2 separate regions of the Homo sapiens genome follow, and region 2 is linked to region 1. A link means that fine-mapping ties the variant in region 1 to the plasma level of a protein whose gene starts in the linked region. Region 1 holds a variant in brackets. A gene starts in the other region. All regions are shown on their reverse strands.

Region 1 (2,924 bases):
TGTTGGTGCGCGCCTGTATTCCCAGCTACTTGGGAGGCTGAGGCAGGAGAATTGCTTGAGCCCAGGAAGCTGAGGTTGCAGTGAGCCAAGCTTGCTCCATTGCACTCCAGCCTCAGTGACAAGCGTGAAACTCTGTCTCAAAAAAAAACAAAAAACTGAAAACTTGAAAAACAATTTAAAAATCAAATATTTAGGAATAAATATCACTAAAGATATTCAAAACTTAAAAACATAACTGGGTAAATTTGAAGAGGAAGTAATTGACAACTATATCGTGTTCATTTTTCCTCAAATTGTTCTAGATTTAATGCAATCAGTTGAAATATGATCAGTTTTTTAAATTAAATTGACAAACTGATTAAAATATGTATTCATTTATTTTTTGAGACGGAGTCTCGCACTGTCGCCCAGGCTGGAGTGCAGTGGTACCATCTCGGCTCACTGCAACCTCCGCCTCCCGGGTTCAAGCAAGTCTCCTGCCTCAGCCTCCTGAGTAGCTGGAACTACAGGTGCATGCCACCACACCTAGCTAATTTTCATATTTTTAATAGAGACGAAGTTCCACCATGTTGGCCAGGATGGCCTTGATCTCTTGACCTTGTGATTCGCCTGCCTCGTCCTCCCAAAGTACTGGGATTACAAGCGTGAGCCACCGCGCCTGGCTGAAAGGACGATTTTTTTTTTTTTTTTTTTTTTTTTTTTTTTGAGACGGAGTCTCGCTCTGTCGCCCCGGCGGGACTGCGGACTGCAGTGGCGCAATCTCGGCTCACTGCAAGCTCCGCTTCCCGGGTTCACGCCATTCTCCTGCCTCAGCCTCCCGAGTAGCTGGGACTACAGGCGCCCGCCACCGCGCCCGGCTAATTTTTTTTTGTATTTTTAGTAGAGACGGGGTTTCACCTTGTTAGCCAGGATGGTCTCGATCTCCTGACCTCATGATCCACCCGCCTCGGCCTCCCAAAGTGCTGGGATTACAGGCGTGAGCCACCGCGCCCGGCCCGATTTTTTTTTTTCAATAAATAATGCTGGGTCAATTGGATATCTATGTAGGAAAAACATGAACCTTGATTCCCTACCACATATCATACACAAATTTTTTTTTTTTTTTTTTTTGAGATGGAGTCTTGCTCTGTTGCCCAGGCTGGAGTACAGTGACACTATTTTGGCTCACTGCAACATCTGCCTTCTAGGTTCAAGCAATTCTCCTGCTTCAGCCTCCTGAGTAGCTGGGATTACAGGCGCATGCCACTATGCCCGGCTAATTTTTGTATTTTTAGTAGAGACGGGGTTTCACCATGTTGGACCAGGCTGGTCTCGAACACCTGACCTCAGGTGAATCGCCCGCCTTGGCCTCCCAAAGTGCTGGGATTACAGGCATGAGCCACTGCACCTGGCCCCACAAAATTTAATTATAGGTGTGAGCCACTGCACTTGGCCTAAAATCATTTTTAGTTATAAAAATAATACTAGGTCATGGTAAAAAAAATTAATTGAGTGTAGAACCTACAAAATGAAACTGGTAATACTCTTCCACCTCCTGCCAGCTCCACTAGTCCCACTCCCAGAGGGTATATATAGACATTATGAATCTTGCTTTTTAAAGTAAAGTTTTAAGTGGAAATTTTTTAAAAAGTTCCAGTCACTTGGAAAATATTCATAAGCAAATATTTCAGTACTATTTTTACTGTTTCTTAGATTTCTGCACCTAATGAATTTGATGTCATGTTTAAACTGGAAGTCCCCAGAATTCAACTAGAAGAATATTCCAACACTCGTGCATATTACTTTGTGAAATTTAAAAGAAATCCGAAAGAAAATC[C/A]TCTGAGTCAGTTTTTAGAAGGTGAAATATTATCAGCTTCTAAGATGCTGTCAAAGTTTAGGAAAATCATTAAGGAAGAAATTAACGACATTAAAGGTAAGACTTTTGCCTTTTGATTCTTAAAGGTTTAATTATACCTAGTAATTGCCAATGTACACTCCCATTCTCATGTTTCTTGACCTCTCTGCAGTAAGAAAAAGTGCAGTAGAGAGGTCAAGAAACATCAGTAGAGGAGTGTACATTGGCAATTACTTATAATATGATTACAAGATTATAAAGTACAGAAGGGTAGAGGTCTTTATCTATTTGTTCTCTAATGAATCCTAAATAACTAGAACACCTACACATTAGATAATCAATGAATATTGATTAAATTAAATGATTAAATTATATGAAATAATCAATGAATATTTATTAAATTGATGGATAAATGAATCTACACTCTCTGCCTAGGTATTTCATCCATTCCCAATGCCACCTATATGATGATGACTCCCAAATGTTTACTTGCAGCCCAAATATATCCTTTGCACTCCAAACCTATATCCAGCTACGTCCTTAACATATCCACTTTGATGTTGATGTACCACAGGAATCTATAACCAAACATATCCAAAGCGAATAAACATAACTTAATTCATATACCAAACTATGTTTTGCCTCAGTCCTTCCCATCTCAGAAAATGGCACAATCAATCCACCCAGACGCACCATCCAGAAACCTGGGAACCATCTTAATTTAATCCTCTCTGTTACCCCCTACGCTTAATCCAGATGCAAGTGCTGCTACAGCTTGGACCTGTCTGCTGCTTCAATCCCAGCACCCTACTCCCACCCCACCTAAGCTGCCACCATCTTTTACCTGAACTATTACATCATTTTCCTTTCTAATCTCCCTATTTGCCTTCTTATAATATCTGTCCTTAGAAGCCAGAGTAAATGTTTTAAAATACAAAGCCAGTCATTACTCTCTGATGAAAACCTGGCTTCTCAATGATCAGATAATAAAATCTGGTGCCAGGCGCAGTGGCTCACACCTGTAATCCCAGCACTTTGGGAGGCTGAGGTGCGTGGATCACCTGAGCTCAGGAGTTTGAGACCAGCCTGG
Region 2 (2,924 bases), not on the chromosome of region 1:
CGCCTTGCTCTCTGGTCAATCCCACTCACACAGACACAATTAACATCACTCTTGACCAGGAACTTATTCTATATAAAAGGGTATTCTATATACTGAGGTATTTGGCAGTGAATTCCTCTTACCCATCTCATCCCCAAACATGACATTGCAGAGCATCTTCAAGTCCTTGGGGCAGAGTAAGGTAGGGAATCCAGTTTTCCTTTTCTGCCCCCCTGAATGGTCGATGGGGTCTTCCCTCCCTGGCAATCACCTCCTCACTCCTTTCCTAGAGATGCTTGGTGGGAAAGGCATCCTTTTCTCTTAGTTCTCCCTAACATGCTATCCCCTGAAGAACTCCAGGAGGTCAATATATAAATTTAAAAATCAAGTTTACTGAGATTATGCTTTATATACAATAAGATGCACCCATTTTCAGTGTATAGTCTGATGAGTTTTGGTAAATGTTTATGCATATGTAGCCACCATCACTACCTCCCTATAGACTATTCCTATGATTCTAAAAAGATTCTTTTGGGAGCCTTCCTACTCAATCCCCACCATCTCCAGGCAACCACTGATCTGCTTCCCACCATTAGAGATTAGACTAGTTTTAGATAATAGATTAGGTCATTACACTTTTGAGGAGAAATTCTTTTTTTGCTGCTGACCAGCATTCACTACATCAATAAAAATAAATGCTAAGCTTTGGGTTTGTTTTTATATAAGAAATGACAAAAATGCCCATTTGTAAGAATTGTTTCTTCCACTTCCCACCTTAAAGTAATGCAACGTTTCAGGGCAAAATTGCCTTCTTCATGAGTGGGTTTGCAGTACTGATTGTATCTTTCACAATATCTGTTGAAAATAAATTCCTCCTTTTAAAATTACAAGAAAAAAAGCCTGTGACTTAATCTTTTCAAACAAAATGACAATAACAGAAAAACCCAAAAGAGTAATTCCCTTAGGTCTACCCTTGAATCAGCCAAGTTTGTGGCTGAGTGAAATACACCGCTCCTGCCAAGCCTTCCTCTCATTGCAGGAAATAGCTGCACACAGGGAGGAAACATGAGCTGATGCATTCCCCACCCTGCCTCCCCCCATGTAGTTCCGTAGGGAACCATTCCAGAAACTTAAGAAGCCTGTGTGTACACCAAAAAAAGCCACAGGGAAAAACCCCTCAAACATCTTACAAATGCTCAGACTGATAAAGACATATTGAATCTATAAACATCAGGACAATTCAGGAATGTGCCTGCACAGTAAGAAACTCAACTTACAATTTGCACTCAAAAACAAGCATGATTATGCATTCTTATTTCACTGACCTCATGACTGCCCTCTGTGTCTCTGCTGTTCCGAAAAGCTGGTGACCAGGCTGATTTGTTCTTCAGAAGTCTTCCTGTCTGCCTCAAGTAAATACTGAAGGAACTATATAAAGGGGTGGGAGAGTAGGGCACGCATCAGCTGATGTTTTCTCCGTTTTTGAGTAATTGCTTTTAGGGGAAGGAAGAGGAAACTGGAAAGTGAAACTAATTTAAAATCGTTGGGAGGAGGAAAATGAAACCTAACGGCTTGAGACCTGCAATGGCTGAGCCAGAGTACGTTATTCAAAACTGTGACTAAAATTTGTTTGAGAGAATGTGGAAGCATTCCTAATGTAAACCAAAAAATTAAATTCTAAGGCCATACTCACCAACCATGTGACTGGACCCCTGCTTTTGGCCAAGGGCATTCCAAAGTTAACCTGAAAACTGATGTGAAGGGGAAGCTGGATATGCCTCATTACATCCTTTTTCCTTTTGGAATTACTAATAGAACACACTCTTTTTTTGTTTTTGTTTTTGTTTTTTTTTGAGACAGAGTCTTACTCTGTTGCCCAGGCTGGAATGCAGTGGCATGATTGCGTCTCACTGCAACCTCTGCCTCCTGGGTTCAAGTGATTCTCTTGCCTCAGCCTCCCGAGTAGCTGGGATTACAGGCACCCACCACCATGCCCGGCTAATATTTGTATTTTTAGTAGAGACGAGGTTTCGCCATGTTGGTCAGGCTGGTCTTGAACTCCTGATAGCAGGTGATCCAACCACCTTGGCCTCCCAAAGTGCTGGGATTACAGGCATGAGCCACTGCACCCAGCCAGAACATGCTCTTTTTAAGTGTATTAAGAAACATTTACAACCTATTCTCTCTGAAGCCTGCTACTTGGAGGCTTCATCTGCATAATAAAACCTTGGTCTCCACGACCCAGACATTCCTTTCTAATGATTGTCTATTGAATTTCTATTGGATGTCTCCAAACATTCCTTTCTATTGATAATAACTCTTTCAACAAATTGTCAATCAGAAAATCTTTGAATCTGCCTATGACTTGGAAGCTGCCCCGCTTCCCTGTTTCCAATTGTCCCACCTTTCTGGACCTAGCCAATGTACACCTTACATGTATTGATTGATGCCTTATGTCTCCCTAAAATGTATAAAACCAAGTTGTGGCCTGGCACATGTTCTCAGGATCTCCTGAGGGCTGTGTCACAGGCCATAGGTCATTCATATTTGGCTTAGAATAAATCTCTTCAAATGTTTTACAGAGTTTGACTTTTTTTGTCAACATTAGGTATCTGACCATCAGTCTAGGGTGGGGCCCAGGAAACAGCATTTTTTAAGCCAATTCTTATTATTTTTAAAAATTTTTTGTGGACACATAGTAGATATATATATTTATGGGGTACATGAGATATTTGATGCGAGCATACAATGAGTAATAATCACATCAGGGTAAATGACTTCAAGCATTTATTCTTTGTATTACAAACAATCCAATTATACTCTTTTAGTTATTTTGAAATGTGCAATAAACTATTGTTGACTATAGTCATCCTCTTGTTCTAACAAACACTAGATCTTATTAATTCTATCTAAGTATATTTTTGTACCCATTAACCATCCCCACT

Direction of the effects. Positions count from the first base shown, and alleles are read on the strand shown. Strength reflects both the effect of a copy and how common the allele is.
In carriers of allele C in region 1, the plasma level of the protein whose gene starts at base 1,386 in region 2 tends to be higher than with A alone (moderate association).

What was found. A credible set is the group of variants that fine-mapping cannot tell apart. PIP is the chance, under the fine-mapping model, that this variant and not a neighbour inherited with it causes the effect. Protein levels are from antibody-based Olink assays in UK Biobank. Linkage for the fine-mapping came from a reference panel and not from the study's own genotypes, which makes the PIPs less certain.
Region 2: it holds the start of IFIT3, and the variant in region 1 is the best candidate, but not a certain one, in a credible set for the plasma level of the IFIT3 protein (UK Biobank, PIP 0.59).

Annotation. Positions count from the first base shown.
Region 1 is chr6:73,444,516-73,447,439 of GRCh38, reverse strand. CGAS (cyclic GMP-AMP synthase) reads left to right here. Exons shown (of 5, transcript NM_138441.3): 2 at 1,693-1,912. Among named protein-coding and RNA genes, the nearest start is that of CGAS, 6.3 kb to the left of the region's middle. The variant C/A (reference allele first, on the strand shown) is at 1,817.
Region 2 is chr10:89,326,459-89,329,382 of GRCh38, reverse strand. IFIT3 (interferon induced protein with tetratricopeptide repeats 3) reads right to left here and starts at 1,386. Exons shown (of 2, transcript NM_001549.6): 1 at 1,305-1,386. The coding sequence starts at 1,309. It also overlaps a transcript of LIPA not described here. RefSeq lists a silencer at 1,009-1,058 and an enhancer at 1,379-1,618.